2 linked regions of the Homo sapiens genome follow. The protein of the gene in region 2 purifies or fractionates together with the protein of the main gene of each other region. This does not show direct contact. Each region holds a gene or a part of one and is shown on either strand. Other genes may lie near its edges.

Region 1 (5,565 bases), on a different chromosome or scaffold from region 2:
AGGGATGCCCTCTCTCACCGCTCCTATTCAACATAGTGTTGGAAGTTCTGGCCAGGGCACTCAGGCAAGAGAAAGAAATAAAGGGTATTCGACTAGGAAAAGAGGAAGTCAAATTGTCCCTGTTTGCAGATGACATGATTGTATATTTAGAAAACCCCATTGTCTCAGCCCAAAATCTCCTTAAGCTGATAAGCAACCTCAGCAAAGTCTCAGGACACAAAATCGATGTTGAAAAATCACAAGCATTCTTATATACCAATAACAGACAAACAGAGAGCCAAATCATGAGTGAACTCCCATTCACAATTGCTTCAAAGAGAATAAAATACGTAAGAATCCAACTTACAAGGGATGAGAAGGACCTCTTCAAGGAGAACCACAAACCACTGCTCAACGAAATAAAAGAGGACACAAACAAATGGAAGAACATTCCATGCTCATAGAGAGGAAGAATCAATATCGTGAAAATGGCCATACTGCCCAAGGTAATTTATAGATTCAATGCCATCCCCATCAAGCTACCAATGACTTTCTTCACAGAATTGGAAAAAACTACTGTAAAGTTCATATGGAACCAAAAAAGAGCCCGCATTGCCAAGACAATCCTAAGCCAAAAGAACAAAGCTGGAGGCATCATATAGACTTCAAACTATACTACAAGGCCACAGTAACCAAAACAGCATGGTACTGGTACCAAACGGGAAATATAGACCAATGGAACAGAACAGAGGCCTCAGAAATAACATCACACATCTACAACCATCTGATCTTTGACAAACCTGACCAAAACAAGCAATGGGGAAAGGATTCCCTATTTAATAAATGGTGCTGGGAAAACTGGCTAGCCATATGGAGAAAGCTGAAACTGGATCCCTTCCTTACACCTTATACAAAAATCAATTCAAGATGGATTAGACTTAGACCTAAACCCATAAAAACCCTAGAAGAAAACCTAGGCGATACCATTCAGGACATAGGCATGGGCAAGGACTTCATGACTAAAACACCAAAAGCAATGGCAACAAAAGCCAAAACAGATAAATGGGATCTAATTAAACTAAAGAGCTTCTGCACAGCAAAAGAAACTACCATCAGCGTGAACAGGCAACCTACAGAATGGGAGAAGATGTTTGCAATCTACCCATCTGACAAAGGGCTGATATCCAGAATTTACAAAGAACTTAAACAAATTTACAAGAAAAAATCAAACAACCCCATCAAAAAGTGGGCAAAGGATATCAACAGATATGTCTCAAAAGAAGACATGTATGCAGCCAATAGACACGTGAAAAAATGCTCATCATCACTGGTCATCAGAGAAATGCAAATCAAAACCACAATGAGATACCATCTTACACCAGTTAGAATGGCGATCATTAAAAAGTCAGGACACAACAGGTGCTGGAGAGGATGTGAAGAAATAGGAATGCTTTTACAATGTTGGTGGGAGTGTAAACTAGTTCAACCATTGTGGAAGACAGTGTGGTGATTCCTCAAGGATCTAGAACTAGAAATACCATTTGACCCAGTGATCCCATTACTGGATATATACCCAAAGGATTATAAATCATGCTACTATGAGGACACATGCACACATATGTTTATTGTAGCACTATTCACAATAGCAAAGACTTGGAACCAACCCAAATGTCCATCAATGATAGACTGGATTAAGAAAATGTGGCACATATACACCATGCAATACTATGCAGCCATAAAAAAGGATGAGTTCATGTCCTTTGTAGCGACATGGATGAAGCTGGAAACCATCATTCTGAGCAAACTATCACAAGGACAGAAAACCAAACACCACTTGTTCTCACCCATAGGTGGGAACTGAACAATGAGAACACTTGGACACAGGGCGGGGAACATCACACACCTGGGCCTGTCGTGGGGTCAGGGGATGGGGGAGGGATAGCATTGGGAGAAGTGCCTAACATAAATGATGAGTTGATGGGTGCAGCAAACCAACACGGCACATGTATACATACGTAACAGGCCTGCACGTTGTGCACATGTACCCTAAAACTTAAAGTATACTAATAAAATAATTTAAAAAAGAAAAAGATACTTGCACACGCATGTTTAAGCAGCACAATTCAAAAGTGCAAAAATGTGGAACCAACTCAAATGCCCATCAATCAACGAGTAGATAAAGAAACTGTGGTATATATATACATGATGGAATACTACTCAGCCATAAAAACGAATGAATTAATGCATTCGCAGCGACCTGGATGAGACTGGATGCTATTGTTCTAAGTAAAGTAACTCAGGAATGGAAAACCAAACATCATATGCTCTCATTCACAAGTAGGAGCTAAGCTATGAGGATGCAAAGGCTTAAGAATGACACAATGGGCTTCGGGGACTCAGGGGGAAAGGATGGGAAGGGAGTGTGGTGTATACTGCTCAGGTGCACAAATTGGGTGCAGTGTATACTGCTCAGGTGATAGGTGCACCAAATTCTCACAAATCACCAGTAAAGAACTTATGTAATCAAACACCACCTGTTCCCTGATAACCTATGGAAATAAAAAAAATTGAAAAAAACAGAAGACAAAAAGCACTGGTAAAGATAACTATGTAATTATAAATGATATACATGTATATTTCTTCTCCTTAACTGATTTAAAAAGAAAAAGAAAAAAAAGTCCCTGTTTGTAGAGAATCCACACAGTTAACTTTATGTTTCCTGTCACAAGAAAGACTCTAAGACCCTCACTCAGAGCTCTTTGCTTTTAATAGACATCTCAAATAAAATTAGTTACCTGGTTTCTCACCCACAGATTAGAAATAGAAAACCAAATAAGATTCAGGGGATATCAGAAGCCAGCTAACAGTGAAGTAAAAGATGAACAGATAAATGAACAGAAAGAAATAAAGATGTACAATTCTAAAAAGCAATCAGAGACATTTCTAAAAAGCATTGCAGTTTAGGTCATTTAATCTGGTAATTCTCAAACTTGTTGGTCTCAGGACCTTGTTCTTGTAAAACTTTCTGAGAACATTAAAGAGCTTTTTTAGTGTAAGTTTTATACATATACATATAAAAAGTTATAAATATTTATATAAAGCTAAAACAAAGTGTTTATTAATTCATTCAAAACAGTAAACCCATACCACTTATTAACATAAACCTACTTTTTATTTTAAAAAACTATATTTTTCAAAAAAGAAAAAGTTTAGTGAGAACAGTGCCATCAGGGTTGAATCTCTTTAATATCTAGTTTAACAGATGACAGCTAAATTCTCTTATCTACTTTTATATTCAGTCTGTTATGTTGCTTTAAGTATATGAAGAAAATCCAACTTTACAAAGATACATAGTTGGAAAGGGAAGAAGTATTTTAATAGCCTTTTCAGATCATTATTAATATTCTTTAATACCACATTAAAACTCAACAAGTGGTCGTTTCTTAAAAATTAGTTGCAATGAACCATATTGCAGTATACCTGAAACCATATCATAAAATTTTGTACACTAAATTAAAATCCATTAGGTCTTTTACCCATGGTGATTTGACATTTAGAAAATATTGGTTCTCTGAGTTATGCAGACTTTCCAAATGCTGACACATTTCCTTGTTAAAATATCAAAAAGTGATATTTTAACAAATATGATCACCACCAATTTCATAAGAAGAGTCTATAAGCACTGGGAAGCTGTCAAGCTCACCACAGCAGCAAATATGTTTTACAAAGTTTCAACCTTCACTTAAATTTTTATCATGACTCACAAATAAATTAGTTGCTCTCCTTGAAGAAAAGGTTCACTTCATTCATTTTCAGGAAAATGTGTACCAATTATCCTATTCTGAATAGTCTCTGTGACTGTTATCCTTTCAAGTAAAAATGGTATTCCACGAAAAAAGCACATAGTTCAGCTCACAACTCAAATAATGTAAGTGCTTTTCCTGAGACAACCATCATACTTCAGTAGGCATCACACAGAATATTTGTAAGATGCATACTTAAAGGTAAAGATTTAATAAAATTAATAATTTTTACTGCTTCATCAAGGACAAGATTAAATAAAACTGGCACTTTTTTTTTTAACTGCCAATGCATGGCAATGAAAATGCAATGACACTAGTAGAGTCTGCTAACATCTTGATCCATGTTATGGCACCAGCAATTTTATGCATCATTGTTATTCACCAACAGCACAAATGCCAAAGCAGAAAAAAAACTCATTATAATTTTTAAAAAATTCCTAAGTAGACAACATCTTAGTATTATGATGCAGAGTTCTGACTCATAGACTCCCTGAAAGGGTTCTGGGAATTCAAGGGTCTACAGACCACACTTTGTTCATCACTGATTTAACCTACTACATGGGTGATTGGCCCTATGTCTTAATGAAACCTGAGAGAATTTTTCCATTCACTTTTAATGTTTATAACTGATTATTTCATGAAGAAAAGGCAAAACTGTATTCATTAGATTCCACTTTTTTAAAAAAAAAAGGTCAGTTAGTGTATATCTTAGAAATATTTCCAGCTAAAATGTCAATAAAACAACCCTTAGAACTTAATATTCAGTTGCCTGGCAATTATACTTTACGTCAGCCATCTCATTTCCTGACCCATCTCATTTCCTGATAATTTTGCAAATATACATAGTATCTACATTTACATTTTCTGAGAAATGAAGATATTAAAATATGGTATAAGAGTTTTCAAAATAAAAAAAGACAAACTATCACCCACATTTTAGATAACTGCCATCCTGCATGCTTCAATTCAAGACAGAATCAGGGGTTACAAGAGTCAGAGAGGCAGAGGTAAAGTACCTAGGAATATGAAAGCTCATATGAATGACCAGTCAAACTGAGGCAAGAATCTGATGAGAACAGCTTTCTAACTGCAAAAATAGGCAAAGATGTGAGTTGCAAGATTAGACCTTGAGAAGCCACAAAGGGTTTGGTTGGAAGGAGGCAGGGAGACATGGGCATAAGGCCAACTGCCCCCATCAATGCCTAGTCAGGTGCAAGGCTGCAGAGAATTTTACACAGAGAATTTGCATAAAAATTTTCACCAAAAAAGTAAAATCAAGCCAGTGTAATAAGAGTAAATAATTTATTTCAAGGGCAATGCACTGCATACAAACACACTGCATCCTCTCCACTCAGATACTAAATTTTCATATTACCTTTTTTCTCTTCTTCCTCTTCTTCACAAAATTCTGCTAGAGAAAATGTTTCTTTGAGTTGCTCTAATTCAACTTTTAGAGTCTCTAATTCTTCTCCACTCAGAGAATTAAGGATAGATTTCACCTGAATGGATACAAGAACAAAATGTTGTAGGAGTATGAAAGAAAAGAAAAACATTCACAAATAGGGAAGAGACTATAAAAAGATCATATTGAAGTCAAAATTATGAGCTCATCAGCCAGCACAAGTTATTCCTTAAGAACCTTAACACAAGAGGCTGGTTATGACAGAAAGGTAGGGAGACTCTGTGCTTCTAAAAGTAATACCAGCCAGAAATTCCTGGAAATTATCAGTGTTTAGCAACAGCTTAGAAATAACAAAAAAATTAGATAATCTTAAATCAATTA
Region 2 (5,565 bases):
AGATTTGAATTCACGTTTCTTAGATTCCAGAGCGCAGGCTTTTTGCTCCCAAAGCAGCAAGAGAGTTTTCTAGGTTTAAATGGGATAATCAAAATAAAGCATTTATTTTTTATTTTTTATTTTTTGAGACGGAGTCTCGTTCTGTCACCCAGGCTGGAGTGCAGTGGCGCAATTTCGGCTCACTGCAACTTCCGCCTTCCGCGTTACAGTGATTCTCCTGCCTCAGCCGCTTGAGTAGCTGGGATAACAGGCGTGCACCACCACGCCCAGCTAATTTTTGTATTTTTAGTAGAGACGGGGTTTCACCATGTTGGCCGGGCTGCTCTCTAACTCCTGACCTCAGGTGATCCGACCGTCTGGCCTCCCAAAGTGCTGGGATTACAGGCGTGAGCCACCGCTCCCGGCACAAAGTAAAACATTTTACCTAAGGACTGGCACAGAGCGTACGCTTAGATGTGAGCTGCTCAAAGGAAGCATGGGTTGTTTCCTGAAGTAGAAGTGGGGGGAATCCCCTGCAGAAGAACGCAACCGAGAGGGGCCTTGGGAAATAGCAAGGATTTGGACAGATAAAGACGTGGGAGGTAGGAGAGAAGCCCTTCCCTACGGCCTTCCTCTCTCATTTGCCTTGTCCCTGAGATGGTTCAGCCCTCTCAGGCCTGATCTTACCTCTGGGGCAGAATTTGACTTTGGGTTGTGTGTGGGGGGAAATTCTTAGGTGACCCACCTTCATCTACCCTAACACTCAGGCCAGGTTCAGCTGTGGAATTCACTCAGGGCAGTCCCTGATGAGAGCTGTTTCCCACCTCATCTCCAGAGACCACCTCCCAGGCCCTGCCAGCCTTCACGACAGAAATCCAGGAAGCGTCTGAAGGGCCAGGTGCAGATGAGGTGCAGGTGTTCGCTCCTGCCAACGCCCTGCCCGCTCGGAGTGAGGCGGCAGCTGTGCAGCCAGTGATTGGGATCAGCCAGCGGGTGCGGATGAACTCCAAGGAGAAAAAGGACCTGGGAACTCTGGGTATGACGGTCCCCCACCCCTGCCCTCGTTGGGATTCATCAAGAGATGTCATTTGCTGATTGTCTAGGGTGTGGCTAATGGGACCTTGTGTCCTATCCTTGGCAGGCTACGTGCTGGGCATTACCATGATGGTGATCATCATTGCCATCGGAGCTGGCATCATCTTGGGCTACTCCTACAAGAGGTCAGTAGCTTCTCTTCTGGGCCCTCTTAGGAGGAGGGGAGGAAGGTACACAAAGTCAAACTTTGTGGCTTTCTTACCCAAAAGGAAGCAAGATGTTGAAAATCAGCTCAAGATGTAGAGACTTGGTCCTAGTCTTTATCTGCTGACCTTGGACAAACCCTTTCCTTTGGTGCCTTTACACCTCACTTAAAAGCCTTGTGAGGGATGTTCTTGTTCCGCATTTTACAAATGAAGAAGCCTCTGTCAGAGACTTGCTCAAAGTCACATAGCCTAGGAGTGGCAGAACCTGGATTCAGACCCAGCTCTTTTGATAGCAAATTCCCTGCTGTCTGATCCCACATGCCTGGCATTGAAGTGAGTGGCACTGCAGAAATCAGGCTTGACACTGATTGCAGGGACCTTAAGACCAAATTCTTTCTGTGAGTTATAAAATTCTGCTACTAGAAAAGGTTTCCAGCCACTGTTGCAGTTGAGGCTTAAATTTCCTGAGCTATAAGCAGTGGGATCTCCTCTGCTAGGGAAGAAAAAAGTGAGTTGGAGAACAGAAAGTCTGTTTGCCACTCTTCACCACGTGTGAGAAAGCCAAAGAGGCTACTTGTGAAACTCAAGGACATGACCTGTGGCTGGGACAGCAGGAGAAGAATGCTTATTTTGAAAGGTCCCACGAGATGTCCGTCAGTGACTGGTGCATGATGGTAAGCCAGACTGGCATTCATCTTTACAGCACTGGCTGATTGTGGAAAATTATTTGCCATTCTTGGGCAAAATCGGGGGATTTGACTTCTAGCCCTGGGTGTCTGTAATATTCTCCTCTGTGGTCTGAGAAAACTTCCTGTGAGGAAAGTGACACAGTAGCCTGCATTTTTCCTTCCTTTCCTCCCTCCCTCCCTCCCTTCCTTCCTTCCCCTTTCTTTCCTTCCTTTCTTTGATTTTTTTTTTTCAGGGTCTCGCTCTATTGCCTAGGCTTGAGTGCAGTGGTGCGATCACGGCTCACTGCAGCCTCAACCTCCCAGGGCGCAAGTAATTACCCCCACCCACCCCCACTGAGTAGCTGGGACTACAGGCATGTCCCACCATGCCTGGCTGATTTTTAATTTTTTTATAGAGACAGGGTCTCACTGTGTTGCCCAGGCTAGTCTCAAACTCCTGGGCTCAAGCAGTCCTCCTACCTCAGCCTCCCAAAGTGTATAGGCATGAACCACCATGCCTGGCATGCAGCCTGCATTTTCCAGTGATGAGGGCCATGTCTGAGCCCACAGCCTCAGTGGATCACCCAGCAGGGCATCTTTAAAGGCCTTGTAGTCAACCTCCTCATTACAGATGAAAAAGGGGAAGTTTGGGTATAATAATAACAGCAGTAGCAAACATGTACCGTATGCCAGACACTGCTTGAAGCACATGCTTTAACTCATAATCACCCTTATGAGGTAAATGCTGTCATCTCCAATTTACAGATGAGGAAACTGAGGCAAGAGGGGATTATATACGTTACCTGAGGTTACACACCTAGCATTTGGTGGAGAGAAGTCCTTTAACTAGCTATCTCTGTGACCCTGGGCAAATTGCTTCAATTTCCTACTCCACATCATGGTGTGGAGCTATGGCTTTTGACTACTTAGCTCAGGGTGTGGCACATAGTAGGTGGTCAGTAAATGATGGCTGTTTTTCTTTTCTATAAAATGTGTGGCTGGGCGTGGTGGCTCACACCTGTAATCCTAGCACTTTGGGAGGCCGAGGCGGGCAGATCATGAGGTCAGGAGTTCGAGACCAGCCTGGCCAACATAGTGAAATCCTGTCTCTACTAAAAATACAAAAAATTAGCCAGGCGTGGTGGCGGGCACTTGTAATCCCGGCTACTTGGGAGGCTGAGGCAGGAGAATCGCTTGAACCTGGGAGGCTGAGGTTGCAGTGAGCCGAGATTGTGCCACTGCACTCCAGCCTGGGCGACAGAGCCATACTCCGTCTCAAAAAAAAAAAAAAAAAAATGTAGGTAATGGACCAGGCGTAGTGGCTCACACCTGTAATCCTAGCACTTTGGGAGGCAGAGGTGGGTGGATCGCTTGAGCCCAAGAGTTCGAGACCAGCATGGGCAACATGGCAAAACCCTGTCTCTACAAAAAAATACAAAAATTAGCCAGGCATGGTGGTGGGCGCCTGTAGTCCTAGTTACTAAGGAGGCTGAGATGGGAGGATCACCTGAGCCTGGGAAGTCGCTATGGTGAGCCATGATTGTGCCACTGCACTCCAGCCTGGGTGACAGAGTGAGATGCTGTCTCAAAAAAAAAAAAAAAAAAAAAAAAGTGGGTAATGGACTAGTACTCTCTGATTTCTTATGATGCAGGAAGCAGAGGTCCAGAGAGGGAAAGTATTGACTTGAGAGGACATCCTGACGCCCAGTCTGAGGTTGTTTCCCACAATGGGATGCTTGACATGCAGGTCCAGGGACACCTGCTTGTTCATTTCAGAGTTAATGACATAGTGGCCCTGGCCTTACAATTCATAAGCAGACCTAAGCCACATTGGCTGAGTTTAGTCCTTGAACTATCTCCTTTTTCCTCAGCCACCCAACAGCATTTGGCTGTCCTGCAATCCTGTGACAGTTTCCAGGCCTTCCAGGTGCTTGAACTGACTAAACATTCTTAATTCTGAGCTCAGTTCTGGTGTCCAGTGGAAGTCTTTTTTCTTCTAGATTTGTTCCTCTAGGCTGTCACGAGACTGCCCTGAGGCCTAAAATTTATTTTCCTGTAAACTCAGGGCAAGGCACCCAGTCATCAGACTCCCCGTCACTAACGACCAGATCACCCCTTTCTTCAGCAGAACTGCTCTGAGAACAGACTGTACAACAGGAAACCGCATGTGGGCTTAAAAACAAGCTTGCAGCCTTCATCTCTTCCTAAAGTCAGAGAGCAGAGTGTCCTGAAAAGAGCTGTAGGTTGAGTGTGGGTTCAGGTGCCCTCTGAGCCTTGGTATCTTGTCTGTTAAATGGGGATATATCCTCCCTCCACATCTACCCATCTAAGATTATAAGTATTAAATGTAAACAGAAACAATAGCACACCAATCAGGTAATAATCACAATAGCAGCCAACATTTATTTCATGCTTTCTTAATAAGTAAGGCCCTACTGTATGCTCTTCCCTGATTATCTTTTTTTCTTAATTTTTTTTTTTTTGAGACAGAGTCTCGCTGTGTCGGCTCACTGCAACCGCCGCCTCCTGGGTTCAAGTGATTCTCCTGCCTCAGCCTCCCGAGTAGCTGGGATTAGAGGCACCCGCCACCATGTCCTGCTAATTTTTGTATTTTTAGTAGAGACGGGGTTTCACCATGTTGGCCAGGCTGGTCTTGAACTTCTAACCTCAGGCAATCCACCCGCCTCGGCCTCCCAAAGTGTTGGGATTATAGGCATGAGCCACTGCACCCAGCCTCCTGATTACCTTGACTAAGCCTCACAACCACACTAGGAGCACTGTTAGATTTTACAGTGAGGAGCTGAGACCTAGCAGAGTTAAGTACAATGGCCAGGCTACACAGCTAGTAATGTATGTCTGAGGAGTATTAGTATCTCCAGCAAGTCCAGTGAGGCCAAGTAGCCTCATGTAAATTTGCTTTGAATTGCAAAGGAAAGTAGGAAAAATAGAAATTTAAAAAAAGGCTGGGTTTAAAGTCAGAAGAAACAAGATCTAGTTCTGGAACTTTCACCTATTCTGGATGTGACACTGGACAAGTTATTTACCTTCTCTGGACCTCAATTTCTTCATCTGTACTGTAAGGGGGTTAGATATGGTGATACTCCCAACTCTATTTCCTAAAAAGACAATATTGCCGGTGCTAAGACTGGGTTCAAATCCCAGCTCTGCCATTTGCTTGAACAAATAGTGTAACTTCTCTGCATCTGCCTTCCTATCTATGAAACAGATCAAAATAGATACCACATAGGTTGTGAGGATGAAATTGGACAGTATAGTTTAGGCATACAATTGGTGTTCTATAGCCTGGGAGAGGAAGTTGGAGGCAGCATACAGTAGGGCCTTACTTATTAAGAAAGCAGGAAATAAATGTTGGCTGCTCTTGTGATTATTACCTGTAGCTGCCTTGGGAACTTTTCCTGAGCAGCAGTGTGGCACAGCACTGCCTCTGACTGGGAAAATAGCAGCGGCTCAGAGTAATAATTGAAGACGACCTGTGTAGTCTGAATGAGGTCTGTGGTGCTTCCATACTCTGGGAGAGGAAGTTGGAGGTAGGCAGCAGCTTCCTCTACACCTGCTCTCTCTGGCCAGCTCAGCTCCCAGTCCCACCCTGGCCTTGGAGCAAGCAGTCAGGGTAGGTACTGTAAGCCTTGAGCTCTGCCAAAGGCCATGAGGCTTGC

The links. Proteins that work in one complex are often made in the same cells at the same time.
Region 1: the proteins of PIK3IP1 (region 2) and FAM114A2 purify together in Homo sapiens (affinity purification with mass spectrometry; one large-scale study listed by BioGRID and IntAct). This does not show direct contact.

Annotation. Positions count from the first base shown.
Region 1 is NC_000005.10:154,021,242-154,026,806, forward strand, and holds part of FAM114A2 (protein FAM114A2), read right to left. Parts: intron 5,282-5,565; coding exon 5,158-5,281; intron 1-5,157.
Region 2 is NC_000022.11:31,284,949-31,290,513, reverse strand, and holds part of PIK3IP1 (phosphoinositide-3-kinase-interacting protein 1 isoform 1 precursor), read left to right. Parts: intron 1-814; coding exon 815-1,015; intron 1,016-1,120; coding exon 1,121-1,199; intron 1,200-5,565. UniProt on the Homo sapiens protein: Negative regulator of hepatic phosphatidylinositol 3-kinase (PI3K) activity.